Linked DNA regions of Homo sapiens. The protein of the gene in region 4 purifies or fractionates together with the protein of the main gene of each other region. This does not show direct contact. Each region holds a gene or a part of one and is shown on either strand. Other genes may lie near its edges.

Evidence for each region.
Region 1: the proteins of ECHDC2 (region 4) and CYP24A1 purify together in Homo sapiens (affinity purification with mass spectrometry; one large-scale study listed by BioGRID and IntAct). This does not show direct contact.
Region 2: the proteins of ECHDC2 (region 4) and DBT purify together in Homo sapiens (affinity purification with mass spectrometry; one large-scale study listed by BioGRID and IntAct). This does not show direct contact.
Region 3: the proteins of ECHDC2 (region 4) and NDUFS6 purify together in Homo sapiens (affinity purification with mass spectrometry; 3 studies listed by BioGRID and IntAct, with this or other methods). This does not show direct contact.
Region 5: the proteins of ECHDC2 (region 4) and MMAB purify together in Homo sapiens (affinity purification with mass spectrometry; one large-scale study listed by BioGRID and IntAct). This does not show direct contact.
Region 6: the proteins of ECHDC2 (region 4) and IVD purify together in Homo sapiens (affinity purification with mass spectrometry; one large-scale study listed by BioGRID and IntAct). This does not show direct contact.
Region 7: the proteins of ECHDC2 (region 4) and UQCC1 purify together in Homo sapiens (affinity purification with mass spectrometry, with the first as the bait; one large-scale study listed by BioGRID). This does not show direct contact.

What each region holds. Positions count from the first base shown.
Region 1 is NC_000020.11:54,152,501-54,157,055, reverse strand, and holds the end of CYP24A1 (1,25-dihydroxyvitamin D(3) 24-hydroxylase, mitochondrial isoform 1 precursor), read left to right. Parts: exon of another isoform or gene 1-2,294; 3' UTR 2,295-3,610; downstream 3,611-4,555.
Region 2 is NC_000001.11:100,239,524-100,243,537, reverse strand, and holds part of DBT (lipoamide acyltransferase component of branched-chain alpha-keto acid dehydrogenase complex, mitochondrial isoform 1 precursor), read left to right. Parts: intron 1-2,653; coding exon 2,654-2,777; intron 2,778-4,014. UniProt on the Homo sapiens protein: The branched-chain alpha-keto dehydrogenase complex catalyzes the overall conversion of alpha-keto acids to acyl-CoA and CO(2).
Region 3 is NC_000005.10:1,807,727-1,811,740, forward strand, and holds part of NDUFS6 (NADH dehydrogenase [ubiquinone] iron-sulfur protein 6, mitochondrial precursor), read left to right. Parts: intron 1-4,014. UniProt on the Homo sapiens protein: Accessory subunit of the mitochondrial membrane respiratory chain NADH dehydrogenase (Complex I), that is believed not to be involved in catalysis. Complex I functions in the transfer of electrons from NADH to the respiratory chain.
Region 4 is NC_000001.11:52,897,469-52,901,482, reverse strand, and holds part of ECHDC2 (enoyl-CoA hydratase domain-containing protein 2, mitochondrial), read left to right. Parts: intron 1-2,258; coding exon 2,259-2,309; intron 2,310-2,728; coding exon of another isoform or gene 2,729-2,903; intron 2,904-3,998; coding exon 3,999-4,014.
Region 5 is NC_000012.12:109,566,728-109,570,741, reverse strand, and holds part of MMAB (corrinoid adenosyltransferase MMAB precursor), read left to right. Parts: intron 1-1,878; coding exon 1,879-1,972; exon of another isoform or gene 1,973-2,439; coding exon of another isoform or gene 2,440-2,487; intron 2,488-3,165; exon of another isoform or gene 3,166-3,388; intron 3,389-3,574; exon of another isoform or gene 3,575-3,714; coding exon of another isoform or gene 3,715-3,731; intron 3,732-4,014. UniProt on the Homo sapiens protein: Converts cob(I)alamin to adenosylcobalamin (adenosylcob(III)alamin), a coenzyme for methylmalonyl-CoA mutase, therefore participates in the final step of the vitamin B12 conversion.
Region 6 is NC_000015.10:40,411,836-40,415,849, forward strand, and holds part of IVD (isovaleryl-CoA dehydrogenase, mitochondrial isoform 1 precursor), read left to right. Parts: intron 1-1,155; coding exon 1,156-1,252; intron 1,253-2,987; coding exon of another isoform or gene 2,988-3,034; exon of another isoform or gene 3,035-3,053; coding exon 3,054-3,147; intron 3,148-3,565; coding exon 3,566-3,647; intron 3,648-4,014.
Region 7 is NC_000020.11:35,401,804-35,405,817, forward strand, and holds part of UQCC1 (ubiquinol-cytochrome c reductase complex assembly factor 1), read right to left. Parts: intron 1-4,014. UniProt on the Homo sapiens protein: Required for the assembly of the ubiquinol-cytochrome c reductase complex (mitochondrial respiratory chain complex III or cytochrome b-c1 complex). Involved in cytochrome b translation and/or stability.

The DNA.
Region 1 (4,555 bases), on a different chromosome or scaffold from region 4:
CTGGGTGACCTTGAGCAGTTCCCTAAACTCTCTACTTCCTTTTTTTTTTTCATTTGTAAAATGATGACCCAAAGAGAGTGTATCACAAAAATTTAATATGAATACCAAGTAGTTATTCCTGAGCCTGGCATCAATTAAGTGTTCAGTAAATGCTAGCAGCTGTTCATGGTTTTTGCATGTGAATAGTAAGGGTTGGCAAACTTTTTCCGTAAAGGGCCAGTTGGCAAATATTTTAGGTTTTATGGACCATACAGTCTTTGTCACATCCTCTTAATACTACCTTGGAACATGAAAGCAGCCACAGGCAATTTGTAAACTAATGAGTGAGCTGATGTCCTAGCTTTCTATTGCTGCCACCGCAAATTACTAAAACTTAGTGAGTTACACGACACACATCTATTATCTTACAGTTCTATAGGTCAGAAGTCTGATGAGGCTCTTCCAGGCTAAAATTATCGTGTTGTCGGGGCTCTTTCTGGAGGTTCTAGAGGAGGATCTATTCTCTTGCTAGTTTGGTTGTTGGCAGAATTTAGTTCTTCATGGTTACAGGACTGAAGTCTTTATTTTTTTGCTGCTGTCAGCTGAAGGCGATCCTCAACTTTGAGAGATTTCCCATATTCCTTGGCTCATGAAACCTTCCCCAACTGAAAGCCAGTAACAATGGTTGGTTGAGTCCCTCTCACACTTTGAATCTCTCTTTCTTCTTACATTGCTTCTGTCTGACAAGATATTATCCAGGATCATGTCTCCCATCTCCAAGTTCATAAATTTAATTTCATCTGGAAAGCCCTTTTTTTCATATAAGGTAGTATATTCACGTGTTCCAGGGATTAGGGCATTCACATTTTAGGAGATCTGTTATTCTGCCTACAAAGGCTGTGTTCTGATAAATTTTATAAAAAACAAGCGGTGGACTGTATTTAGCCCTAGGGTCTAGGTTTGTGTTATGCAACCACATGTAATATAAATGTATATATTTATCAGCCTGTATTGAACACAATAGAATATTTTTTCTGCAGTATGCCATTCAATACTTTTTCTGACAATAGAGGAGTTCTCATGTTCCCTCCACAACTTTTGCCATGTCCATATACCAACCAGGTGCTATTTATTTCAATACTACTGAGTTATTTCCTTTAAATAACATAAGCCAAATAGCATATGTTGGCCTCGTCCTGAGTAATAATTTCCTTAATGAAATTAAGAGTTAGTAAGTCTAGTTATGTTCTCCTAATAGACATTACAATGAATTCAAAACTATTGAAGTGATCAAAAGTTAGCCTAAGAAGGCCCTAATTTTTTTTTTTTTTTTTTTTTTTGAGACAGTGTCTCACACTGTCACCTGGGCTGGAGTGCAATGGTGCAATCTCAGCTCACTGCAACCTCCGCCTCCTGGGTTCATGCGATTCTTCTGCCTCAGCCTCCCGAGTAGCTGGGATTACAGGCAGGTGCACACCACCACACCCAGCTAATTTTTTGTATTTTTAGTAGAGATGGGGTTTCATTATGTTGGCCAGACTGGTCTTGAACTCCTGACCTCGTGATCCACCCGCCTCGGCCTCCCAAAGTGCTGGGATTGCAAGTGTGAGCCACCACCCCTGGTGGTGGAAATAAGACATTTGTAACATATGGCTTTATAGGCTGACATGTCGGTGTTTAAACCCGGATTCTATCATTGTGTTCTTTTAGCAGCACCTTCTAGGATTTTCCTAGAAAAAAATGCTGTTTGCCAATGGCAAGTTAAGGAGCATTTGCTTATTGGTAGATTATTTAGAGAAACATGCAATTACAGATGAAATTTCTGAACAAGGCCCAAATGAATACATTATTATTCCTCCACCAAGTGTCTGATGCTATTATGAAATTTGTCAAATTCTGAGCATCCCAACCAACAGAACTGAATCAAGTAGGGTAAGGAAAGTATTCTAGCTGCATTGTGACACCCCAGCCTTCAGCAAAGAGCATGCATGTTTATCACAGTAAGCCACACCTTTTAAGTTTTAGCATTTTTTCTTTGGCTAATAATTTGTCTTGTTTAAATACACTTCTTTGATATACAATTAGGGTATACCTTTTTTTTTTTTTTTTTTTTTTTTTTTTTTTTTTTTTTTTTTTTACCAAGACCAAAACAGCCATTTCAACTTTTCTGCAAGAATGGTGCTTATGGCTTCTACGTTACCGGAAAGCAAACTTCAAACACCACACCATACAACAGCTTATAAAGAATATTTAGGCCCAGGTGTTGATACTTTTTCTTCTGCAAAATTGTTCCAGAAGCTGTACTGTCTTTCTAGATGGTGGTATTTGCTAACATCATATCCAACTCAGGGAAGCGGACTGAGTGCTGGGATCCAAGGCATTCTACAGGGTTCACTGCTGGTTTACACTTCACCTGTGTCAGCACCATCTTCAGGTGCTTAGAATGGCCTGGGAGCCTGTTCTGTCTTGCATCTTCCATGACATGAAAGGGAGGCTGGCACTTGTCAGTCAGGTAGAGGTTACAAACCGTTTCAGGCCCTGCCTACCACATTCACTGTTTGAATCTTTAATTCCCAAGAATAAGTTTACATTTCACAATGAATGACCTACAACAGCTAAATTTTCTGGGGCTGGGAGTAATACTGACAATCCATTTACTGTAGCTCTGCTTAATGTACTACTTAGGAAAATGTCCCTGCTTAATAATGTAAGCCAAGCTAAATGATGGTTAAAGTTATCAGGCCTCCCATGAAATTGCGTTCTTCCTGCATTGAAATAAAAACATTATTGGGAAACTAGAGAACACCTCTATTTTTAAAAGGACTTTAACGAAGTCAAACAACTTATAAGACTAGTGATTCACTGGGGCATTATTTTGTTAGAGGACCTTAAAATTGTTTATTTTTTAAATGTGATTCCTTTATGGCATTAGGGTAAAGATGAAGCAATAATTTTTAAATTGTGTATGTGCATATGAAGCACAGACATGCATGTGTGTGTGTGTCTGTGTGTGTGTGTCCGTGTATGTGTGTGTGGGTTCTAATGGTAATTTGCCTCAGTCATTTTTTTAATATTTGCAGTACTTGATTTAGGATCTGTGGTGCAGGGCAATGTTTCAAAGTTTAGTCACAGCTTAAAAACATTCAGTGTGACTTTAATATTATAAAATGATTTCCCATGCCATAATTTTTCTGTCTATTAAATGGGACAAGTGTAAAGCATGCAAAAGTTAGAGATCTGTTATATAACATTTGTTTTGTGATTTGAACTCCTAGGAAAAATATGATTTCATAAATGTAAAATGCACAGAAATGCATGCAATACTTATAAGACTTAAAAATTGTGTTTACAGATGGTTTATTTGTGCATATTTTTACTACTGCTTTTCCTAAATGCATACTGTATATAATTCTGTGTATTTGATAAATATTTCTTCCTACATTATATTTTTAGAATATTTCAGAAATATACATTTATGTCTTTATATTGTAATAAATATGTACATATCTAGGTATATGCTTTCTCTCTGCTGTGAAATTATTTTTAGAATTATAAATTCACGTCTTGTCAGATTTCATCTGTATACCTTCAAATTCTCTGAAAGTAAAAATAAAAGTTTTTAAATATTTGAGAGACTTCCCCTCTTTATTGCCTTTGTTACAACAAAATAAAAACAAATTCAAACTTTATTTTACTGGTAGAAAATTTTCTCATATGGCCTACAAGCCCTATATCACAAAATTTACCCTTAGATAAATCTAGACTTTAATAGCAGTTTTACTGAAAGTTTATTCTTGTAATTGCAAAATAACTTTCCATTTTGTTGCTGCTTAAATATTTCCCAAGTCCAGTTACTTCTATCTCTACCCCCTTTCCAATCACACAATCAGTCACACACTGGTTGTGTGATTGAAAGGGGGGTAGAACGGCCTGGGAGCCTGTTCTCTCTTGTATCTTTCATGACATGAAAGGGAGGCTGGCACTTGGCAGTCAGGTAGAGGTTACGAACCATTTCAGCCCCTGCCTACCACATTCACTGTTTGAATACTTAATTCCCAAGAATAAGTTTACATTTCACAATGAAAGACCTACAACAGCCAAATTTTCCGTGGCTGGGAGCAATACTGACAATCTCTTGCCTGGACCACTAATATCTCTAGTCTCTGCAGGAGCTCCCAGCTGATCTCAGTCCTCTCTTGCTTCCTTCCCCTCTGTTCTTTGCACACTTGCCTTACTGGTCTTTTCAAACCCAAACCTGATCATGCCTCATCCTGCCTCTGGGGCTTCCCATTGCTCTTACGTAAAGATCCGATTCTGCAATCCACACTTCCAGGCCCTATCAACTGAGGTCCCACTGATCCCCCAGGCCTCAGCCCACATCATCCACCCCCAGAGGCCTCTGGAACCAGGCCACAGTGGCTTCTGCCAGTTTCTGCTGTTCCTTAAATGCTAGCAAGAGGGTTCTTCCCACCGTCTCCCTCCCGGCATGCTCTTTCTCTGCCTGTTCTTCTCCTACGCACCATCTACGTCCACCCAGCTTTCATTTCCTGAAGGAAATCTTCCTTGATGACTTAGA
Region 2 (4,014 bases), about 47 Mb from region 4:
GCACCCTGGGCAACATAATGAAACCCCGTCTCTACTAAAATACACACAAAAAAAGTTTAGCTGGACATGATGGCACATGCCTGTAGTCCCAGCTACTTGGGAGGCTGAGGCACGAGAATCGCATGAACCTGGGAGGCGGAGGTTGCAGTAAGCTGAGATCGTGCCACTGCACTCCAGCCTGGGTGACAGAGTGAAACTCCATCTCAAAAAAAAAAGAAAAAAAGATGATGTCTAAAAAGGCTATTTTTCTTTTTTTCTTTCTTTTTTTTTTTTTTTTGGAGACAAGGTCTCTCTGTCACCTAGGCTGAAGTGCAGTGGTGTGATCTTGGCTCATTGCAACCTCCGCCTCCCAGGTTCAAGTGATTCTTGTGCCTCAGCCTCCCAAGTAGCTGGGACTACGTGTGCCACCATGTCCAGCTGATTTTTGTATTTTTAGTAGAGAGGGGGTCTCGTCATGTTGACCAGGCTGGTCTCAAACTCTTGACCTCAAGCAATCCACTCACCTCAGCCTCCCAAAGTGATGGGATTACAGGCCAGAGCCACCATGCCTGGCCTGTCTGAAAAGAAAGTACTCAGCACATGGGAGGCACTCAATAAATGTTAAGCGTGGTGGTTTATGCTGCCCCGACCCATGAATAGTTCAATACGAGTTGTGTTGTTGTTGAAGGTAAGACCTTCTAGTAGTTTAATTTTCTTTCAAATGTTTTACAAATATGAACAATTTTATTTAAATTAAGGTGAATCTATATACTTCAAAACTTTCCTTTATTGTCCCTAAGTTTTATGTCTGATGAAACAGAGGTTGATTCACTCCTTTGATTTTATTGTTGACCAAGAGTCAGGATTATGGGAGCTGAAGGAGAAAGCAAGGACAAACAAAATGGAAATGTTTGGGAAAGAGAATTCTTTTATTGTCTTCTGGTTTTAAGTTATCAATTTTAATTATTTTAGTTAGGCTTTATATTTCCTGAATATTAATGTTAGTAAAAATAAAATGTTGATATTATAAAGACTAGTCGATTTAGGGTGATCTCTAAAGTTAAGATGAATGATTTAAGATTATTTATGTTTTAGGAAAGGGATCTTCAGTTTTTCTTTGCCTTCAGAAATCAGTAATAGTTTGAAATTTAAAGTAAAAAAATAAGAATTTAAATGTATTGTTCTTGTCAGTAAACCAAACTTTTACTTTTATATTTGCTATCAGAAAAAAACAAAAATTCTAGTTTATAAATATGTATTAAAACATGACTGTACTATATGATGTTTATTATAACATAGCCTTTAAAAGTTAAGAGCTAATCACCACTAATGTACATGATTTTTTTTTTTAAGTAAAAGTGACTCTGTTACATACATGAAAAAGTTTCACTTATCAGTATTCTTATACTAAGAAGGTTAGAAATTTCTGCAGAGAAGTAAGCTCAGGGCTTTAAAATTAAATAAGTAAATAAATTCTGTAGTTTATGTTTACAGTATGATGTAGTTAAGTATTAATAGCATTGAAATTTTTTTTTTTTTGAGATGGAGTCTTGCTCTGTCACCAGGCTGGAGTGCAGTGGCTCGATCCCGGCTCACTGCAACCTCTGCCTCCCGCATTCAAGCGATTCTCCTGCCTCAGCCTCCCAAGTAGCTGGGACTACAGGCGCATGCCACCAAGCCCAGCTAATTCTTTTGTATTGTTAGTAGAGACAGGGTTTCACCATATCGGCCAGGCTGGTCTCTTTAACTCCCTACCTCGTGATCTGCCCACCTTGGCCTCCCAAAGTGCTGGGATTACAGGCGTGAGCCACCGCGCCTGGCCTAATGGCATTGAAATATTAACTTTCCAAATAAGATATTATGGCCTGGCATGGTGGCTCGCACCTGTAATTCTAGCACTTTGGGAGGCTGAGGTGGGAGGATTGCTTGAGCTCAGGACTTCAAGTCCAGCCTGGGCAACATACTGAGACCTTGTCTCTACAAATAATAAACAAAATTAATTGGGTGGGGTAGCATGCGCCTGTGGTCCCAGATACTTGGAAGGCTGAGGCAGGAGGACCCCTTGAGCCTAGAAGGTCAAGGCTTCAGTGAACTGTGATCGCACCACTGCACTCCAGCCTGGGCAACAGAGTGAGACCATGTCTCAAATACACACACACACACACACACACACACACACACACACACACACAATACCTTTCAGACACTTAGGTTTTGATATATAGAGTTGAATACATTTGGGCCTACTTATTTCTATAAGAGATTTTAAAATAATATTATACTAAGGTACTATGTAAAATAGTTAATTCTAAAGAGTCATCTATAAGTTACTATAAGTAAACTTTGGGGTATCATACTATACAAGTTTTTCATTGTTTTTAGATGCTAACTATTACTTTAGAATTCTTTAGTAGTTTTAGTTCAGGAAGTCCAATGACTTAAGCATACCTATAAGCTGATGTATTTATACAGAATACACTGTTAAAATGTCTTTACTTTCAGAAGGAATTTTGGGTAAGGATCATAAATGTAACAAATCTAAATCTAAGGATATAATATTTCTATTGTGACAATGGTTCTACTTTTAGAATGGAATTGAAATTCAATTTATACTTAGAGATAAGCCGGTATGGTTGTTTATAAATGCTTTTACTTTTTGTTTTCTCATCTGTAGATTTGTGTTCGCTATTTTCAAACATGTGGTAATGTTCATGTTTTGAAGCCAAATTATGTGTGTTTCTTTGGTTATCCTTCATTCAAGTATAGTCATCCACATCACTTCCTGAAAACAACTGCTGGTAAGTATGATTTCAAAATAACGTGTATAAAATAATGTTTTGTACCTCATTCAGTAATATTTTTTAGTAGTTGATTGAGACTTTTTAAACAAAAAAAAGTTGACTCTGTATTTCTAGCCGGGCCCTTCCCATCTCCCCACATTTTTCCAGTTCTCACTTTCTTTTTTCTCATCCCTCTCTTTTACATACTTTCCTTAACACTGGCACCCCTTTTTAAAAAAAATTTTTTTTTAGAGACAGGATCTCACTCAGTTGCCCAGATTGGAGTGCAGTGGTGTAATCACAGCTCACTATAACCTGAACTCCTGGGCTCAAGTGATCCTTCTGCCTCAGCTTCTCAAAGAGCTGGGATTACAGGCATTAACTTATCTCGCCCAGCACTTGTGTCTTTATAATATTGGGAATGGGTTGTGTTGGGCCATCTATTTATCATCTGGCTCATCTAAGTGCAATAGTCAGCATTGATATGACTTTCTCAGTCAAGGTAAATTGTTGACTTAATAGAGGTGTCTTTGTGTTGGCATACACATTGTGGTATTGTTTGTTGAAAGAAGCACTTAATCTGTCAAGTGAACATGGTGTGATGAAACCAGCCTGATTTAGTACTAAATAGAAAGTTCCCTGACTTTCACCATTTACTTACTTTTTCCCCAGCTTTTTCTACCCTCTGTAAAGAACTTGAAGGATTAAGTATTAGATTTGGCAAGGGCACAAGAACTGTTTTTTTTCCTGATGTTCTATTTAGAACCCTGATAAAGAACCCTAGACTTTTGTTACACTATTAAGTTTTTGACAGATACATGGGAGCTTAGTTTGTGCTGGGAATGAAAAATGGGGGAATTCCAGGCAGACCCCAAGTCAGCCTTTCCATGCTCTTTTTTTTTTTTTTTTTTTTTTTTTTTTTTTTTTGAGCTCTGTTGCTCAGGCTGGAGTGCAGTGGCACAATCATAGCTCACTGTAACCTCAAACTCATGGGCTCAAATGATCCTCCTGCCTCAACCTCCTGAGTAGCTGGGACTACAGGTGTGCATCACTACACCTGGCTAATTTATTTATTTATCAGGATGTTGTCACAGTGCCCAGGCTGGTCTAAAACTCCTGGATTCAAGAGATCCTCCTGCCTCTGCCTCCCGAAGGGCTGGGATTACAGGCATGAGCCCTGCACCGGCCTTCCATGCCTTTTCTTTTGCTTTCTTTTTTTTTTTTGAGACAGGGTCTCACCTCTCAAAGTGATGGG
Region 3 (4,014 bases), on a different chromosome or scaffold from region 4:
ACATTGAGCCATCTCTTGAGGCCAGCGCAGCACCACCCGAACCATGTTGGCTCTCGTGCGTGCACACACACACTGTTGGTCACAGGAGGGATGCCACCAGAGAGCTGAGAGGGAGTGCTGAGGTACCCAGGGGTCAGTAGCTGCAGGAAGCAGCCACTATTCCTAGGACTTGGGGGGCAGGAGGAAGAGGTGGCGTCACCAGGAGGGAGCTGTGAAAGTGCCCTTGTGGTGCCGCTGGAGCTCCAGGTGGGAGACAGGACTGGGAGTCGGGGATGGGTGCTAGGGTGAGGCCCCCAGCCAGACAGTGGTGGCTGAGAAGGTCCTCCGTGAGAGGAAGATTGAATTGAGGGGCCTCGGAATTCCACCCTCCGCCTTTGCAGGTCATCTGGTTGGTGGCAGAGGTGGAGCTCTGTGCTTGCTTCCAGGTTCATCCTTAGAGGGTTTAAGAGGGGAGGTTTGCCTGAGTCTCTCTTGTCTTGAAGCAACCTGGGCGTCCTTTAGGGGGTGTTTGAGACGCGGGCGGTGCGATGTGCGCCATGGCTGCTCTCCAGAGCTTTTGTGTGGCTTCCCGCTTCTGCATGCTCCTCCTCCTGAGCTTCCCTCCCAAATACGCCATCTTTATAGTGGAGTGAAGGCAATCGGATTTTAAAAGAAATCTTCTGGATGGATAAGAACCGTGGGTCTTTGCTTCCTTTAGAAAGGCTTGGACTGTCAGAAATAATGGTTATAAAGTGAGGTTTATTTATCCCAGGACCCAGAGGAAAATAGTTGGAACTGTGAATTCACGAGCCCCAGGTTCACATGCTGGTGGCTTTGTTTGTGAGCTGGCGAGATGGGCTTTATTTCCTCCCTCATGCAGCTCCCCAGCTTCGTCTTTGCTTCTCTATTGTGTCTTTGTGTCTTGTGGTTCTTTCTCTTCCAAGGCACTGGCAAAATTAGTCACTGGATTCCAACATTCTCAAAGCAAGTTTGAACATGTTGTACAGACAGCTCAATTGTGGTTTTTAGAGCATTTTCTATAAAGTTACTTAGTTTAAAAATTAATTTGAATGAAAACTTCAGTTTTGCCTGTGATTTAAGAATTATATACTTATATAGACATGTATACACACGTTTAGCTTAAATAATTATTGGCATTCATGTTCAGAATGCCTGATGTTCTAAATAATTGAACTGAGCTTTTACTTTATTTTAAACTTTTATTTTAAATGTCCATGAATGGGGTCGGTATTCTACAGTGTCGATGATCCAGCTGGTGGACTTTTCCCTTCTGCGTTGGTTTTGATGCTGTGTCACAGAATCACATATTTTATGTTTTATCTTTAATAGATGTAATCTCAGTTTGACACAATAGGACTTTGACTCCTAAAGATTTAAACCTACATATCTTTATGCCCAATCATTTGATCATCAAGAGGTCAATGGAAAGAGTGTTTCCTATTTTTTACATTAGTGACGGGCGAGGGACTCATTTTACAGAGGTTGGACACTTCACTGTGTATGATGTGCCGTGTGCTTAACAAGAGATGGCGTGCGGGCTGCTGTGACGGTTCTCCCTTGATTCCCTCGTGAAGTGCAGCAGCGCTCTTCAGTTTTTCTCACCTTTCCCCAGGTGAAAGCAGGTGAGAATGGAGCCTTGAGTCTGAACCCAGAGCGGGGCTTTGTGTTGTGGCTGGGTGTGTTCACTGCCGGAGCTTGGCCGTGTGAACCCGGAGCCGGGCTCTGTGTCGTGGCTGGGTGTGTTCACTGCTGGTTCTTTGTATTCCTGCGGTTGCACTGAGCTCCTGGAGCCAGACGTTTGCTGGTGATGGGCGGTCAGGGTCACCCTTGAGCTGCGCACACTAAATGACGGGAGGGCATCCCGCGTCAGTCGCCAGTGTCGAGGCGTCAGCAGCCCTCCCTGCAGGGAGGTGGCCGGTCTCTTTGACTGCCGTGATCGGGGCCTGGCAGTTTGTTAGTGCGGCCTTTGTGACACGTTGTCACTTAGGCAGACACCATATTATTTACACCATAAGGCTTAATTTGTATGGTTAGTTGCATCGCCTGCAGCAGGGGTGAGCAGAACATCGCTCACTCCAGAGCCCTCTGTAAGGCGCTGCGACAAGGCGAGCCGCCGGGCCGGCAGCAGAGGCTTGTGTTGCTGGAGCGTGTGGAACAACCTGGGCGGCGCCACACGGCTCAGGCCTCTGCTTTAATGTGGCTTCATTTTCCACTAACTTCCTACTGTGTTTCTGGAAATAGATCTTCAAGGAAAAGCTTTACACAATGGTCATCTGTAACTGACAGAACCTCTTGAAAAATAAACCTTTCCGAAACATATCTGTGAGGGAGAGTGGTGCCCTGCCTCCCACTGCGTGTGTGTTCTCTGTGACTGTGTGGCATTGAATGGGCCTCTAGTCTCCAGAAATGAGTGACTTTGTGATGAGCCCTGTTGCTGCTTCCACTCTGGGGCGGGGACGCTGTAGAAGGAGCACAAAGTTTCAGGCTGTGCCATTAAGCAGGGGAACCCCAGGAGCAACATCCGAGGCAGAGGGTTGTGTCATGCTTGGCGGGGCTGGCCCTCCAGGAGGGGACATGCAGGTAGACCCACATCCCTGGGCTTAGAGGCCTGCTGGGGGTGTAGAGTTGAGTTCCTTCCCTCTACATGCACAGATGCCGGCGCTCTACTTCCCATAGCTTCCCGGTTCTTCGTGCCTTGTCTTCCTGGCACTTAATCGTTGACTGTTCCCAGGGGCAGCTGAAAGGGGCTGGCTCATTACAGAGTCAGAGGAAATCAAGGCATGTCCCCTTTCCAAGTTCCCAAATTTGCCATCGTGAGCATCATCAAATACATTATTTGCCAAGCCAGGATGTTTTAATTGCTTTTTAAAAAACATAAATTCTGTGAAACAGAGGGAATAGTCTAATGATTCCCTTTTCCCATGTATCCAGGCAGTCAGTTTCAACAATTACCAACCGAAGTAGTTGTCGGAGGGGCCAGTCTGGCTCAGCTCCTCTAATGGTTGTCGGAGTGGCCAGTCCGGCTCAGCTCTGCTAATCGTTGTCGGAGTGGCCAGTCTGGCTCAGCTCTGCTCTGCCTCTCCCCCGGCCCCCCAGCCCCTGGTAATGTTGATGTGAATCTTTGACATCATGTTACTGAGTCTAAATTTATCTGTATGTAAGTTGACCCTTGAACAACATAGGTGTGAACTGTGAGTCCACTTAAGTGGCTTCTCTTTCGCCTCTGCCACCCCTGAGACAGCAGGACCAACCCTCCCTTCCTCCTCCTCAGCCTGCTCTACGTGAAGATGATGAGGATGAAGACCTTTATGACGATCCACTTCCACTTAATGAAAAGTCAGTTCATTTTCTCTTCCTTGTGATTTCCTTCATTGCATTTTCTTCCTCTAGCTTACTTTATTATAAGAATCCAATATATAATACTTGTAACATGCAAAATATATGTTAATCGACCATTTATGTTATTGGCAAACATTCTGGTCAGCATCAGGCTATGAGTAAATTGTGGGGGAGTCAAAAATAATATGCAGATTTTCAATTGTGTTGGGGGTGGTTCCCCCAACCCCTGAGTTGTTCAAGGATTAACTGTACCTTCAAAAGATACTAACATTCAGATCTTACAGGGAAGTAAAAAAAAAACAAAATAACAAAATATATTAACATGACAACAATATAATTATCACACCTTAAAAATTATACTTTCTTTAAGTTAAATATCTAAGTGGTGTTAAATATTCTTGATCATGCATGTTTTTAAAAATGTTACAGTGTGACTCCGAGCCCAGGTAAGTTCCTACATGCAGCTGTTGGTGTCTCTTATGTCTCTTTTAATCTGTAGGTTCCCATCGGTCTCCCACTCTCTTTCTCATTGGAGAATTTTATTTGTTAAAGAACCTGGGTCATTTCCTCTGTAGAGTCACCCACAGCTGGATTCTACTGACCGCATCACTGTAGTGTTGTTGAACATGTCTCTTGTCTCTGCATGTTTTGAAATTAGTTGGATCTCAAGACTTG
Region 4 (4,014 bases):
AGATTTCCTTCTTAAATAGTAAATACACATTACACTTTGAGAAATGGATTCAGCTGTGTTTTTTTTCTTTTCTTTTTAGAGACAGGATCTTGCTCTGTTGCCCAGGCTGGAGTGCAGTGGCACGATCATAGCTCACCACAGCCTTGAAGCCCTGGGCCTGAGCAGTCCTTCCACCTCAGCCTCTGAATAGCTGGGACTACAGGTGCAAGCTACTGACTTGGCTAGAATTTGGCTGTTTTCACTCACAAACATACGTACATACCGTTTTTAACTTTAATAAAAGGTTACTTTATTTATTTATTTATTTATTTATTTATTTATTTTTGAGACAGGGTCTGGCTCTTTTGCCCAGGCTGGAGTGCAGTGGCATGATCACAGCTCACTGGAGCATTGACCTCTCAGGCCCAAGTGATCCTTCCACCTAAGACTACTGAGTAGCTGAGACTACAGGTGCAAGTCACCACGCCCAGCTAATTTTTTATTTTTTGTAGAGATGGGATCTCATGATGATGCCCAGGCTGGTCTCAAACTCTTTGGGCAAGCAATCCTCCTGCCTCAGCCTCTCAAAGCCCTGTGATTACAGGCGTGAGCCACTGCACCTGGCCAAGATTACTTCCTTTATTGGGTAGTTACCTAAATAATAACACATATGGCAAGCAAATCTAAAAGAACAGAGGAGTAAGAAGGGCATAAGGTAAAAATCAAAGGCAAGATGACCAGCTAGTCCTGGTTTACCTGTGACTACCCCAGTTTTAAAAGTGGAAGTCCCATATCCCAGTAACCCTTCAGTCACAAGCAAACCCAAACAGCCCTTCATTTCCCAATCCCTCTCTCTCCCCAGATCATCACTATTGTTTCCATACTCTTCCAGAAATTTCCATTGCATATGGAAGGACGTGTATTATGCACATATGCTTACATATTTAAATAAATTCCTTTTAATGGCTTAGAGGACAAGAAATATCTTTCGAGGCTAATCTGTTTCTAACAAATTTTAAAAACAAAATTTAAATATGCATAGTAAGGAATTCAAACATGGAAGAATATAAAACAAAACCTTCATTTTATATAACAAAACATTTATAAACCTTCGTTTATAAAACAAAACAAAGGTTTGGTTTTGTTTTATAAAGGCACACCAGCATTTTGCCAGTTTTTGCCAAATTGCTCTCCTGTGGCATACTCTTTTACTTTTCTATCAATAATGTATGTAAATACTGGTTTCCCCAGTCTCGGCAGTAGTAGGCATATTGATATTTTAGTATTTGCTGGTCTGAGGTGAAAGGGCACAGTACCTCACTGTTTTGATTTGCCTTTCAAGCGTGTAGCAGCTGCTGGACATCCTTCACGTTCGTACTTCTTTTCCGGTGGACCTTTTACATACTCTTTTGTAAATGGTTTAAAAGTTACTTTATACTAACTTTTTTGTAAATCAAGGAAATTCATCTGTCATAAGCATTGCAATTCTTTTTCCCAGTTTTTTTTTTTTTTGAGACTTTTCCTGAGAAAGTTTTATAAACACTTCAAATAATATGATATAGGAAGTAATTCCTCCTTGCCTGGAAGTGGGGCTGAGACTGGAGTGCTAGGGCTGGTGTGGAACCAAGGCCAGTGACAAAGCAGACACTGTTGCTTCTATGTGGCTGTATTAAAATGCACCCGCCCCTCTGCACTGCCCCACAGACCAGGATTTCAACACAGCCCTGTCGACTTGAAAGCCCAAGTTCCTAACCCTGACTTTGTTTCACTCTGCTGGGGTAAAACCTTACCGCAGAGGCTGGCATTTGCTGAAATGAGGTCGAGGAAGTGGGAAAGGTGGTTGGGAGTCCAATCCAAGTCTCACCAATGATTGGATAAACACAGCCAAGTGCTTCACCTCCCTGCACTGCAATCTCACAGCTGTAAAATCACAGCTGGGTCATCAGTGATGACACCAGCCTAGAAGTGTGGGTAGCACCATTAGATGAGTCTGTGGGGGAGGAAAGCACTTTGTAAACTAGTTATGTTGTGCATGTTGGAAGGATGGGCTGAATAACAAGAAACCCAGGTGTTCAGGGATCAGAGTCTGGCTTCTTTCATGATAGAAAAAGAACCTCAGCTAACAGGTTATAGGACTAACGCTAAAGAAACTGTCAGCAGAATGGCTGGAACCAGACCCAGACATCTGCCTCCCTCCTTTAAAACAAAGCTGTGCACCTCAGACCTGCAACTATCAGCCTTGATGCCCTCCTCAACCAAGACTTTTTGCTTTTCCCTAGGCCCCCATTGCCGTGCGGCTGGGCAAAGTAGCCATTGACCGAGGAACGGAGGTGAGAGGGTTTTGGGTTGGGACTTGGGTCCACTAAAGTTGGTCGCGGCTGGGACACAGTGCTTTCAGAGCTCAGACAGCACAGCTGGGAAAAACTCAGGAAGTGGACTCTTCTAACAGACTTGAACTCTGACCTCGTGCTCTACGTCAGTTTACACATCTGCAAATTGGCCAGACAGTATTATTGTTTACATTCTATCCTCATCTTTCTCCCTTGGAGAGAGGATGAGATTGAGGTTAAGAAAGGGTAAATGATTTGCCCAAGGTCTCAGAGGAAGTGAGTAGAAAGAACCCGGGTCTGTGTGGCTGCCAGTCCATGCTGCAAGATTTGTGCTGGCAGTAATGTGGCCTCAGGGCAGGGCTTGGGGTGATGCCTTGGGTGTGGCTAATCCATCTGTCCACCTCAACTCTCCCATCTAGTTAATCCATCTGTCCACCTCAACTCTCCCATCTAGTCACTCATCACACACTGAATCCAGAACAAAGCTGGGAACTGGGATACAGATGGATGAGTTAAACATGGTCACTGCCCCCGGGAGGGGGCAGATACAGACACAAATCAAGGATAATGGTACCACGCTGACACCCCAGAAAGGTTAGAGCTTTGCGGTCCATTATGATATCCATGTGTGGCTTTTAAATTAAAAGTAAAATGTGGTCAGGCGCGGTGGCTCATGCCTGTAGTCCCAGCACTTTGGGAGGCTGAGGCGGGCGATCACGAGGTCAGGAGATCGAGACCATCCTGGCTAACACAGTGAAACCCCGTCTCTACTAAAAATACAAAAAATTAGCCAGGCGTGGTGGCAGGCACCTGTAGTCCCAGCTACTCAGGAGGCTGAGGCAGGCGAATCGCTTGAACCCAGGAGGCGGAGTTTGCAGTGAGCCGAGATCGCACCACTGCACTCCAGCCTGGGCGACAGAGCGAGACTCCGTCTCAAAATAAATAAATAAATAAATAAAATAAAATGTTCAGTTTCTCCTTCACGCTAATCACAGTTCACGTGCTTGACATTCACATGCGGCTAGTGGCTACCATACTGGGCAGTGCTCGGTTAAAGACTGTTTTCTACAGTTGGACTGTGGGAAGGATAAAAATTCCAGAGGAAAAGTATGGGCAAAGGCACAGAGGAGGATAAGCAAGCAGCTCGTCCAGATGAGAGTGAGGGAAGAAGAGAGAGTGCAAGTTCGAGGCACTAGGCTGTCTGGGTTCAAAGACCTGCTCTTCCACATACTGTTGTGAACTTTGACAAATTATTTCACCTTTCTATGCCTCAGGTTTCTCAGCTGTAGAATAGGGATACTAACCCTTGCTGTGAAAATTAAGTTCACACACACATGGTACTTCTCTTAGAATGAGGCTTTCAAGTGCCAGTCAGTGGGCCCTAGAGGCTGGAGCAATTGCCAGGGCCCAGGTCATAAAGGTTCAGAAATTAACGGGTGACAGGAAGCGTGGTGAGGCAGCCGGATGGGAAGGAGAACTCCTCTTCTCTGGCAAAATGTCTCAGTCTGTCTCGTTTCTCCCAGCAGTTTTGTCATAGTTACGAATGGTGTTTCTTCTCTAGGAGGGAAATTCCTTCTCATAGCTATCTCTGCTCATATAGATGTCTGTAGGCAATAGGGTGGGCTGGCTTCCAGTGTGGGTGAAGATGGACAAGGTCAGACCAATCCAGGGAGCACGTCTTTCTTGCAGGTGGACATTGCATCTG
Region 5 (4,014 bases), on a different chromosome or scaffold from region 4:
TCGCCATGCCTGGCTAATACTTTTTAATTTTTTTTGTAGAGATGAGGTCTTGCTGTGTTGCCCAGGCTGGTCTTGAACTGCTAGGCTCAAGGTATCCTCCCAGCTCAGCCTCCCAAAATGCTGGGATTACAGGAGGCATGAGCTACCGCACCAAGACAGTATACCATTTTTTGTAGTACAAAAGCATGCAGACCACTAGTATGTATTGTTTTTTGGATATATACTTGTATAGTAAAAGTATAAAAGCATGTACGGGACATACTCAGTGCCACTGAATGGTAAACTTAAGAAGGGTCAAAATGGTAAAATTTCTGTTATGTATCATCTGTTACCACAATTAAAAAGAAGGAAGAGGATGTTGGAAAGGACTTATTGTAGGGTTGGGCTTGTGTTGGGTGGTTACAAGGAAGTGGGGCTTTGTTCTGGATTGAATCCTGTTAGGAAGCAGGGCTGTTTCTGTCACTGGGTATCTTTTTTTGTTTTTTGAGACAGGGTCTAGTTCTGTTGCCCAGGCTGGAGTGCAGTGGCACGATCTCAGCTCACTGCAACCTCCTGGGTTCAAGCAATTCTTATGCCTCAGCCTCGCGAATAGCTGGGACTACAGGCATGCATCACCATGCCCAACTAATTTTTTCTGTTTTTAGTAGAGACGGGGATTTGCCATGTTGGCCAGGCTAGTCTCGAACTCCTGGCCTCAAGTGATCTGCCCACCATGGCCTCCCAAAGTCCTGGGATTACAGTGTGAGCCACTGCACCTGGCCTGTAATTGGGTATGTTAATAATTTGTTTCTAGAAGACAGAAGGGACAAAGAGGTGCTAACGCTGTAATGGATAAAGATGCAGCAGTCACTCACATTAGCCAGGGAAGGGGGAGGTTTGGTCATCTTTTGGAGTTTGGACACAGTCGTCTGTGCTCAGACGTTCTTCCGCAGTGGCCTTGTCTTGGTCTCGAACCGTCATAGTCATAGAGTGGCCTGTCTGATGGTTTTCTGTGAAATGGTTTGTGTTCAGCAGAACACCACAGTCTACCTGTGAGTGCCAGGCCGGCACCTGGCAACCCCAAAGCCTGCCCGATAGCGAAAGCCAGCTCCAAACTGTCAGGGGCAGTTTTCACTTTCTCAGAGGTTGGGGGAGAAAGGCGGGACTGTGAGCTAGGCAGAGGCACAGAGGACTTTGACTTCATGTGAAATATAATGGTAATGTATATATGATATAAAATATAGAACGTGTTGTATTTCTTTATCAGGATGGTTAGTATGTGGTTTTTAAGTTGAAAAGCACATCAGGAAAGAAGTGAGCATAGTGGCTAACCCTTGGGGAGTGGCAACTAAAAGGGGTTACATGGGGGCTTTCAGGGTGTTGCTCATGTTCTGTTTATGAAGCTAGGTGCTGATCAAGGAGGTATATTCAGTTAGTAGTAATTCACCAACTTGCACACTTACGATTTGAGCACTTTTCTGTGTATATGCTATATTTCAAGTTGAAAGTTCTTTAAGGGGTGGTACGGTGGCTCATGCCTGTAATCTCAGCACTTTGGGAGGCTGAGGCGGGTGAATCACTTGAGACCAGGAGTTCAAGACTAGCTCGGCCAACATGGGCGAAAACCCGTCTCTACTAAAAATACAAAAATTAGCCGGGCATGGTGGTACACACTTGTAATCCCAGCTACTTGGGAGACTGAGGCATGAGAATCACTTGAACCTGGGAGGGGGAGGCTGCAGTGAGCCAAGATCACGCCGCTGTACTCCAGCCTGGATGACAGAGTGACTGTTCAAAAAAGAGAAAGTTCTTTAAAATCTTTGAAAGTTTAAAAAAAAAAAAACAGCATATCAGGAAAACAGAATCTTAATTTGGGTGGCTAAACATTTTTTTCCACAGGGTTTTCTAGTACCTTCACAGGAGAAAGGAGACCCAAAGATGACCAAGTGTTTGAAGCCGTGGGAACTACAGATGAATTAAGTTCAGCTATTGGGTAAGGGGGACAGGATTGGCCTTGAGGTTGCGTTTGAGTCGAGTATGAGTAAACGTAATGAATGTGAAGCTCTCACGCATGCTGGGCAGCAGCCTCGGAGGTTGTCAGCCCTTATTGAACTTTCCTCAGCCCTGAAGCACAGGCTGGTCAGCTCCACAAGGCTGTGGGGCTGCAGACTCCTTTCCCTTCTGGCCCTGCCTGTGCCTGCGCTGGCCTCTGGCCCATGCCATGTGAAGCTGCCTCCCTCTCATCCCTCACTTTTCAGGTGAGCCTGTGTGTGCCACTGAGGTTAGTATACTGAGTGAAAGAGGTGAGTTAGTATAATGCACAGTACATCCAATGTGATCCCTTTTGTGACTGTTGTTTTTTACATAAGCCAAAGTTTAGAAGGTGGACTCAAGGATGGACCAGATCAGGATGGGCCAGGTCATGCTGTGATCACAGACAACCCCAAAATCTCCTGACTTATGACACCAAAGATGGACTTGCTGTTCCCACTTCATGCCCATCACAGGGTATATTCTTTGGCTCCATGCGGCCTTCATTCTGGGACACAGGCTGCTAGTACAGCTGCTGCCTGGGGCAATTATCAGTCATTGTGGCAGAGGGAAAAGAGGTCATGGTGAAGCTCACATTGGCTCCTGACGCTGCCAGGGGATTGTGCAGTGTCAGTGTTGTCGCCAGTGAGGTTTACCCAAGATGTGATTATTGCTGATTGAAAACTTTTCCCACTACCCCACCATGATGACTTGAAATATAGTCAACATTGGCAGTTTTTGACAGTCTTTATGGAGACTAAACTTTGTTGGTAAATAAAAGTTGAAAAAAAAATGACTAGGTGCAGCGGCTCACATGTCTAATCCCAGCGCTTTGGGAGGCCGAGGTGGGAGAATCACTTGAGCTCAGGAGTTTGAGACCAGCCTGAGCAACATAGCAAGACTTCATCTCTACTAAAAAGAAAAGTTAAAAAATTAGCCAGGCGTGGTGGTGCACACCTGTAGTCCCAGCTACTCAGAAAGCTGAGGCAGGAGGATCACTTGAGTCTGGGAGGTTGAGGCTGCAGTGAGCCATGATCGCACCACTGCACTCCAGTCTGGGTGACAGAGTACGACTCTGTCTCCAAAAGACAAACCTTTCTTGGGAATGATGCCTTCCATTTATTCACATTTCAGCGGCCAGAGCCTGTCACGTGCACATGCCTGACATCAGCGGGGTAGGAGGGGCAGCAAATATTTGCAAGCAGGAGCACAGTCTGCCCAGCATGCCCTACAGGCTGGTGACAGGGGGAGCAGCAACAGTCTCAGGTGCTGGATCCTGAAATCTGACCCCGGGGCCCTGGGGTTATAGGTGCATGGGAGCCAGACAGACCCAGCTGCAAATTTTCAGCACCGCTGCTGATTGTCTCTGGGACGTCAGGTAAATCACGTGGCCTCTGTGAGCCTCAGTTTACGGTTCTGTCAAGTAGTCATCATGATAATTCCCATCTCACTGTTCTTGTGGGGCTTAAATGAGATGATTCCATGTTTCACCCTGAGGACAGTGCCTAGCACAAGTAAAAATAATGTTAGCTATTATCACTCTTCTTTTTTTTTTTTTTCCGAGACGGAGTTTCGCGCTTGTTGCCCAGACTGGAGTGCAATGGTGTGATCTCGGCTCACTGCAACCTCTGCCTCCCGGGTTCAAGCGAGTCTCCTCATTATTACTATTCTTAACACTTACCTGTTCCTGGCTACCATTTCTCCATGGCGGGCCTGACTAGGTGAGATTTTCGGGACAGATAATGGGAGGTACAGATAGTCAGCCAGCCGGGTAGAGAAGGCAAACAAACCCCTTGGTGTGTGTGGGAGGGGGTCCAGAAGAGGGCAGACACAAGACCAAGTGGGCAAAGGGAGAAAAGGCCAGTTCTCGCATCAGCTATTCTAATGAGCTCTAAAACACGAGCCATCGTCTCTCAGTTGAGGAGGAGCGGGAGGTTGGAGAAACCTCAGTTGTGGATTCTTCCTTGGTCAGATATTGACCAAGCATCTGCAGTGCGAGGCGCT
Region 6 (4,014 bases), on a different chromosome or scaffold from region 4:
CAAGGAGGGTGACCAAAAGTCCAGGAAGTCCAGGGCAGATGGGTCACTTCTGAAGACGGTGGAGCCGTCCTCAGCGCCAGGCCACACAAAGAGGTCTAGAAAGGGGAGGACTAAAAGGAGGTCAGGACATGACGGTCAGGGTACCATTGGTGGATCTGATGAATGTGGCCATGGGAGACTGAGGTGTGGGTGGGATGCAAGTGGAGACTGCCCCTGCAACAGCCTTGACAACAGAAGCAAGAAGGAAGCAGAGCAGGAGTTCCAATGAAAAGTTAGGAGTTTGGGTTTGTTTTTAGAAATGAGAGAACTGAGCAGATTTTTTGGTCAGAAGGAAAAAAAAGGGAAGAAAAAAGAAAATAGAGGGAGAAATTGAAAAGTGTGGGAATGAGTGGGCAGAACACAATGGTGAGCTGGGGCAGAAGAGAGAAGGATGGGTTACAGGTGATGGTGCAGGAACCACTTGCCTAACGATCATGAGGAGGAAGCCAGGGGCCCTGTGAAGGCTGGGGCCACGAGTGGGGGAGTTGGCAAGAGTTTCATGAGCGAGTATTGTAAAGGTTTGCGGTACCCTCCATAGAGAGGGGGAAAGTAGCTGTCTAGGGTTGGAGCAGTAGGGACCTGGCTGAGATTGGAAATCTCAAGGTTGCGTGATGCCACCCTCATTACAGGCTGAAGGCAGCATGTGCCAGCACTTTGCTGGTCACTTGCCAAAACATGCTGCAACCCAGTAGTCCAGGTCAAAGTACAGAGGGCTCAGTTCAGCCCTAGTGGGATCCCTTTGGGTACAGACAGGAGAACAACAGAGGATAAGGGAATTGACCGGGCTGGTGACAGTGTCTTGGAAGTAATGTCCCCTGGGGGAGGGAAATAAGGCCAGGGGGGTCGGGAGGGCTCAGGGAACTGAGCATATCATTGAGAAAGAAGTGTCCCCATGAGAACTGGGGAGAACACAAGCTAGTGGCAGAGGAGGCTGGGATCAATCTGGGGCGTTAGCACCGGAAGGTCCCGGGGGGAGCATGGGACTAGGATGCTGCCATGCTGTGCAGGTACAGGGACTCAATAGGAAGGTGAGTGCCTTCTTCCCAGAGGCCTTTCCTTTACCAGGCCCCCTTGGGGCTAATCTGTAACCAGGACCACCTTTTGTTTCCTGTAAAGGGTATGCCTGGCTTTAGCACCTCTAAGAAGCTGGACAAGCTGGGGATGAGGGGCTCTAACACCTGTGAGCTAATCTTTGAAGACTGCAAGATTCCTGGTAAGTAGCACCGGGAATCGGGGAGCCCCTCTCCTGACCCCCTTCCAGGCTGATCTGGCTGTTCTCAAGTTGAGAAAGCCTCTGGGTTAGAGAGGCTTGGCATTGTTAGCGCTTCAGTGACATGTGGCTAGGCTGTGAGCTGGGGCTGCTGGACAGCGCTCCTTCCTGGCCAGGGCCCTGCAGCGGCATGCCTAACTGGCATCACACACTCCGCATAGGGTCTGTACTCAGTAGCCGGAGGAGAAGGGTCAGACCTACCCTTTCCCATTGATGTCCTTCAGTCTTCCTGTACTTTCGCCCATCCACTGCATGTGAGTAACTCATTAACTCACGTTTTTGTAAAATATTTTAAAAATGAGTTATTCATTTTTAGCATTAATGATGCTAAGAAAAAAAAACAAAACATCTGAATCCACTGATGGAATCCCGACTCAGTAGAGAGAAGGCAGTTCTGCTTGAGTATGAGTATTTTCTCCCCTGAGGTGTAACTGAAATCTGACATGGTGGAGCACTGTGGGAGAGCCAGCACAGCCATCATGTACTAACCAGACCAGGGGCATGGATTTGTTGTTTGGGGTTTTTTTTTGTTTTTTTTGTTTGTTTGTTTGTTTGTTTGTTTTGAGAAGGAGTCTTGGCTCTGTCACCCAGGCTAGAGTGCAGTGGCGTGATCTCAGCTCACGGCAGCCTCCACCTCCTGGGTTCCAGTGATTCTCCTGCCTCAGCCTCCCGAGTAGCTGGGATTACAGGCATGCGCCACCCTGCCCAGCTAAATTTTTTGTTTGTTTTTTTGAGATGGAGTGTCGCTCTTGTTGCCCAGGGCTGGAGTGCAATGGCGCGATCTTGGCTTACTGCAACCTCCGCCCCCTGGGTTCAAGTGATTCTCCTGTCTCAGCCTTCTGAGTAGCTGGGATGACAGGCACACACCGCCCAGCTAATTTTGTATTTTTAGTAGAGACAGATGGGGTTTCACCATGTTGGCCAGGCTGCTCTCGAACTCCTGACCTCAGGTGATCCACCTGTCTCAGCCTCCCAAAGTGCCAGGATTATAGGCCTGAGCCACCTTGCCTGGCCAGGGGCATGGATTTGATCAACAGTTAGGTTTGCTGTCTGCCTCAGCCATATACCACGCCTATCACTGACAGCCCAAAAAAGTGTACTTTAATTACAGGGAGCATCCAGGGAGGGGGAGCTGTGCAGCTCCTTCTTTGTTGACAGGAAAAAATTCAGCTAGCATTAAAGGCAGGTCAGTAGTGTCAACCTGTTTTCCTGCCCACACCTCCCAAGGCCATCCAGTCTCCTGGCTTTACTGGGTGGAGAGGTGCTCAGCAGCTTCTGTCACTAGCTCTGAATGGCCTGTCTCCTGGACAAAGAAGCTTTCACGGACTACTCTGCAGGGAGGTGACATTGGACCAGAGCTGACTCCACCTGGGGGAAAGAGTAATTCTCTGGTTTCTTTATAGGTGCCTGTGTAGAAAGAGTCAGGGAGGGATTGGGTGACTTCTAGACCAATTAACTTTTCTTCTTTCCCATCCAAGGGAGTCCAGAGAGGGAAGGGAAAGATCTAACAACTCTAGCCTTTGTGGTTGGCCTCGTGGATGGGGTGGGAGTCCTGGCAGCTCCACTTCTGACTGGAAGGGGTTCACTTGATCCTTTTCTTTCACCTGGAACCTTAGTTGAATAAAGGTCAAGTGACATATTTTAGTGCCTTACTTGAGAGCCATGTTTCCAAATCTAGTACCTTTGATAAAAGTGAGGAGGCTGTGGACAGCTCTCTCCCTCTGACCAGCACTTATCCTGGCAGCTGCCAACATCCTGGGCCATGAGAATAAGGGTGTCTACGTGCTGATGAGTGGGCTGGACCTGGAGCGGCTGGTGCTGGCCGGGGGGCCTCTTGGGTAAGTGTGAGAGGCTTGAGGGAAGCTGGGCTCTGTCGGCCTCCTCGGCAGGTGACCCACCATGAGCAGCAGCAGCCTTCCCCTTGCGGGGCCAAAGGGAGCTGCCTCTTGGCCCTGCTCTCTCCTGGGAGATGAAAGGAACCTCCTCTTCCCATGTTGAATTTCTTCCCACAGTGGGGAAATATCATTAAGTAACAGACAAAAGGCCTGAGGAGCAGGGTGGCTTACTCGGCTGTGAAACGACACCTGGGCTGTCACGCCCCTGCACCTCTGGCCAGTCAGTGCCGTAACTGTGGCAAGACTTTCTGAAGTTGCTTTTCTCCTCCCTGGGATTCTGGCCTTCCCACGCTAGCATTTTGCCACCACACCCGGTGGTGGGATGAGGAGGTGCCCACGGGGCCTTTCTCCTTTCTGACAGGCTCATGCAAGCGGTCCTGGACCACACCATTCCCTACCTGCACGTGAGGGAAGCCTTTGGCCAGAAGATCGGCCACTTCCAGGTGAGCCGAGTGCTTTTGCTGACATGTACTCTTCAACTGGGCTAAAGTTTTCTTTGAAAAGAGAGGAAGTGAGGTGGGCACCGTGGATGGTTACTGTCTCCTCTAGCAAATTGAGCTTGACTGCTTGGAATGCAGTCTTCCTCAGCATGCAGCCTGACTCTGGAAGTCATCAGGAAGTTCACCACATTGCCACCTCGATTCCTGTGTGAGGTGGATGAACTAGACATTGTAAGGTTGGAGAGCAAAGCGTGCAAGTTGTGGGGGCAGAAGGGAAAGAGGTTGCTATTTGTAGTTAGACCTTCTGGTCCGAAGAAGCTGCTGGAAGGTAATAAGCATTGGAGTAAATGGTGCCTTGGGAGCCATGCCT
Region 7 (4,014 bases), on a different chromosome or scaffold from region 4:
GGTATGCGCCACCACGCCCAGCTAATTTTGTATTTTTAGTAGAGACGGGGTTTCTCCATGTTGGTCAGGCTGGTCTCGAACTCCCAACCTCAGGTGATCCCTCAGCCTCAGCCTCCCAAAGTGCTGGGATTACAGGCATGAGCCACCATGCCCAGCCGAAATCCACTTTATAAGTCACCACTGGTGCCTATATTCCAAATGCCATGGATACTAACTCAATTCCGGAGTCCAAAGAACAGATACTACGGTAACAAACTTTCCTTCCAGTTACAATGTGGCATGCTATAATACAAAAGGATATTTCCACAGAGGGAAGAAGAGAATGTTTAACCATTCCTTCAAAAATTACTGAATACAGGCCGGGCATAGTGGCTCACGCCTGTAATCCCAACACTTTGTGAGGCTGAGGTGGGTGGATCACTTGAGGTCAGGAGTTCGAGACCAGCCTGGCCAACACAGTGAAACCCGTCTGTACTAAAAAATACATAATATAGGCCGGGCGCGGTGGCTTACGCCTGTAATCCCAGCACTCTGGGAGGCCGAGGCAGGCAGATCACGAGGTCAGGAGATTGAAACCATCCTGGCTAACATGGTGAAACCCCGTCTCTACTAAAAATACAAAAAATTAGCCGGGTGTGGTGGTGGGCGCCTGTAGTCCCAGCTACTCGGGAGGCTGAGGCAGGAGAATGGCGTGAACCTGGGAGGCGGAGCTTGCAGTGAGCTGAGATCGCACCACTGCACTCTAGCCTGGGCGACAGAGCGAGACTCCATCTCAAAAAACAAACAAACAAACAAACAAACAAACAAACAAAATATATATATATATATAATATATATAAATTAGCCGGGCATGGTGGCGCATGCTGGTAATCCCAGCTACTCAGGAGGCTGAGGCACAAGGATCGCTTGAACCCGGGAGGCGGAGGTTGCAGTAGGCAGAGATCATGCTGCTGTACTCCAGCCTGGGTGACAGAGTGAGACCCCATCTCAAACAATAACAAAAAATTACTCCAGTACTTTGGGAGGCCGAGGCAGGCGGACTGCCTGAGCTCAGGAGTTTGCAACCAGCCTGGGCAACACAGTGAAACCCCATCTCTACTAAAATACAAAAAAATTAGCTGGGCATGAGGGCATGCACCTGCAGTCCCAGCTACTTGGGAGGCTGAGGCAGGAGAATTGCTTGAACCCGGGAGGCGGAGGTTGCAGTGACCTGAGATCGCGCCATTGCACTCCAGCCTAGGGGACAAGAGCGAGACTTCGTCTCAAAAAAAAAAAAAAAAATTACCTATACACTGCCTCCTCCCACTTTTTTGGGAGTTTTCAATCTGAGCTTTCAAAAGATTGATTACATACAGGAAAGATTTGAATAAATCAATAAATACATTAAGGGTGAGGGGTCAGGTTTCTATCAGAGAAAGGAGTTAACAAATATGGCAAGGCAAAAGAGTAGAACAAACCCTGTGGTATTAGAATAGATTAGAATAACTGGTGTGGGCTTTTAATATATAAAGAAAAAGATATATGCATGTTTATGTGTATATATAGACATATATATATTTCCTACCCACGTCCTGGTAGGGCCTGCAGATGACACTCCAGTAGCAATAAGCACATGTAGCACCCAGATGTGGTTTCTAAATAGCAACAACCACTAAAGGAACTAGTCTCCTCAGGAGACAAGTTGACTCCAGAATGGGGATGATGTTCATCAAAGCCTTACAAAGAACTGGCATTATTCCCAGACATCCCATTACTGGGTATATGCCCGAAGGATTATAAATCATGCTGCTATAAAGACACACACACACGTATGTTTACTGAGGCACTATTCACAATAGCAAAGACTTGGAACCAACCCAAATGCCCAACAATGATAGACTGGATTAAGAAAATGTGGCACATATACACCATGGAATACTATGCAGCCATAAAAAAGGATGAGTTCATATCCTTTGTAGGGACATGGATGAAGCTGGAAACCATCATTCTCAGCAAACTATCACAAGGACAGAAAACCAAACACTGCATGTTCTCACTCAGAGGTGGGAATTGAACAATGAGAACACTTGGACACAGGAAGGGGAACATCACACACCAGGGCCTGTCGTGGGGTGGGGGGAGCGGGGAGGGATAGCATTAAGAGATATACCTAGGCCGGGCGTGGTGGCTCATGCCTGTAATCCAAGCACTTTGGGAGGCCGAGGAGGGCGGATCACAAGGTCAGGAGATCGAGACCATCCTGGCTAACATGGTGAAACCCCATCTCTACTAAAAATACAAAAAATTAGCCAGGCGTGGCCGGGCGCAGTGGCTCACGCTTGTAATCCCAGCACTTTGGGAAGCCGAGGCGGGCGGATCACGAGGTCAGGAGATCGAGACCACGGTGAAATGCCGTCTCTACTAAAAATACAAAAAATTAGCCAGGCGTGGTGGCGGGTGCCTGTAGTCCCAGCTACTCGGAGAGGCTGAGGCAGGAGAATGGCGTGAACCCAGGAGGCGGAGTTTGCAGTGAGCCGAGATTGCACCACTGCACTCCAGCCTGGGTGACAGAGCGAGACTCCGTCTCAAAAAAAAAAAAAAAACAAAATTAGCCGGGCATGGTGGCAGGCGCCTGTAGTCCCAGCTACTCGGGAGGCTGAGGCAGGAGAATGGCGTGAACCCGGGAGGTGGAGCTTGCAGTGAGCTGAGATTGCGCCAGTGCACTCCAGCCTGGGTGACAAAGCAAGACTCCATCTCAAAAAAAAAAGAGATATACCTAATGTAAATGATGAGTTAATGGGTGCAGCACACCATCATGGCACATGTATACATATGTAACAAACCTGCACGTTGTGCACATGTACCCTAGAACTTAAAGTATAAAAAAAAAAGAAGCTTGACTCTGAAAAAAAAAAAAAAAAAGAACTGGCATTATTCAACCTGTCTGACAGTTCCTTAGAAGGCCCTATTTCAAGGCTGTCTTAGAACTCACCCAGTGTGAAAAAACCTTTTCCCCAGGAGCACCGGTTGAAAACAAATAGAGGTAACTGTTTGACTTCATGGCTTCCTGAGGCAGTGATTAACAGGTGGAGAAAACAACAGGCTAACCAAAAAGGTTTAAAGGAAAAGCTGGGGAATAAGATGTCCACAGAGGCTTAGAAAAGCCCCAATATATTCCTGGGCATCTAGGAAGCCATGAACATACCCAGGTCTGTGCATATACCCAAAGCTGTGCACATGCTCAGGAAAGACCTAAGAATGTCTCTTACTTGTGGTTGACCTTGAGGTTCTGCATAGCAGGAAGTGAAAGTTAAGGCAGAGTTATCGAATGCCTGGCAGAGTGTTATAGGTACATCCCAACGTGCACACAGAGCCCCAAAGCAAAAACTGGGATACTCACTGCTTCCAGGCAGTGAGAACAGAATTTTAAGAAATTTAACAGAAATTTAAAGAAATTTGTTTAATCATTACCTGACCACTAAGCTATCTAAGCAGAGACTTCAGTAGCCACAAACAACAAAGAATACAGACTACAGAATCAATTCAGAAAAGTCACTAAACAAAAATACAACAGCAAACCCTGGGAAGGGAAACAATCTGATTTCCGGAGTGGCCACATTATTTAAAATGTCCAGTTTTCAACAACAAAAAGTTATAAAACATGCAAAGAAACAATAAAGTATGGCCCATACACAGGGGGAAAAAATGCAATCAATAGAAACTGTCTCTAAGAAAACCCAGGCAGCAGACAAAGAGATTTTTAACTATTTCAAATATGTTCAAAGATCTAAATGAAAATATGTCTAAAGAACTATAAGAAAGTGGCCGGGTGCGGTGGCTTACACCTGTAATCCCAGCACTTTGGGAGGCCAAGGCAGGGGGATCACCTGAGGTCAGGAGTTTGAGACCATCCTGGCCAACATGGTGAAACCCCATCTCTACTAAAAATACAAAAATTAGCCGGGCGTGGTGGCAGGCACCTGTAATCCCAGCTACTCAGAAGGCTGAGGCGGGAGAATCGCTTGAACCCGGGAG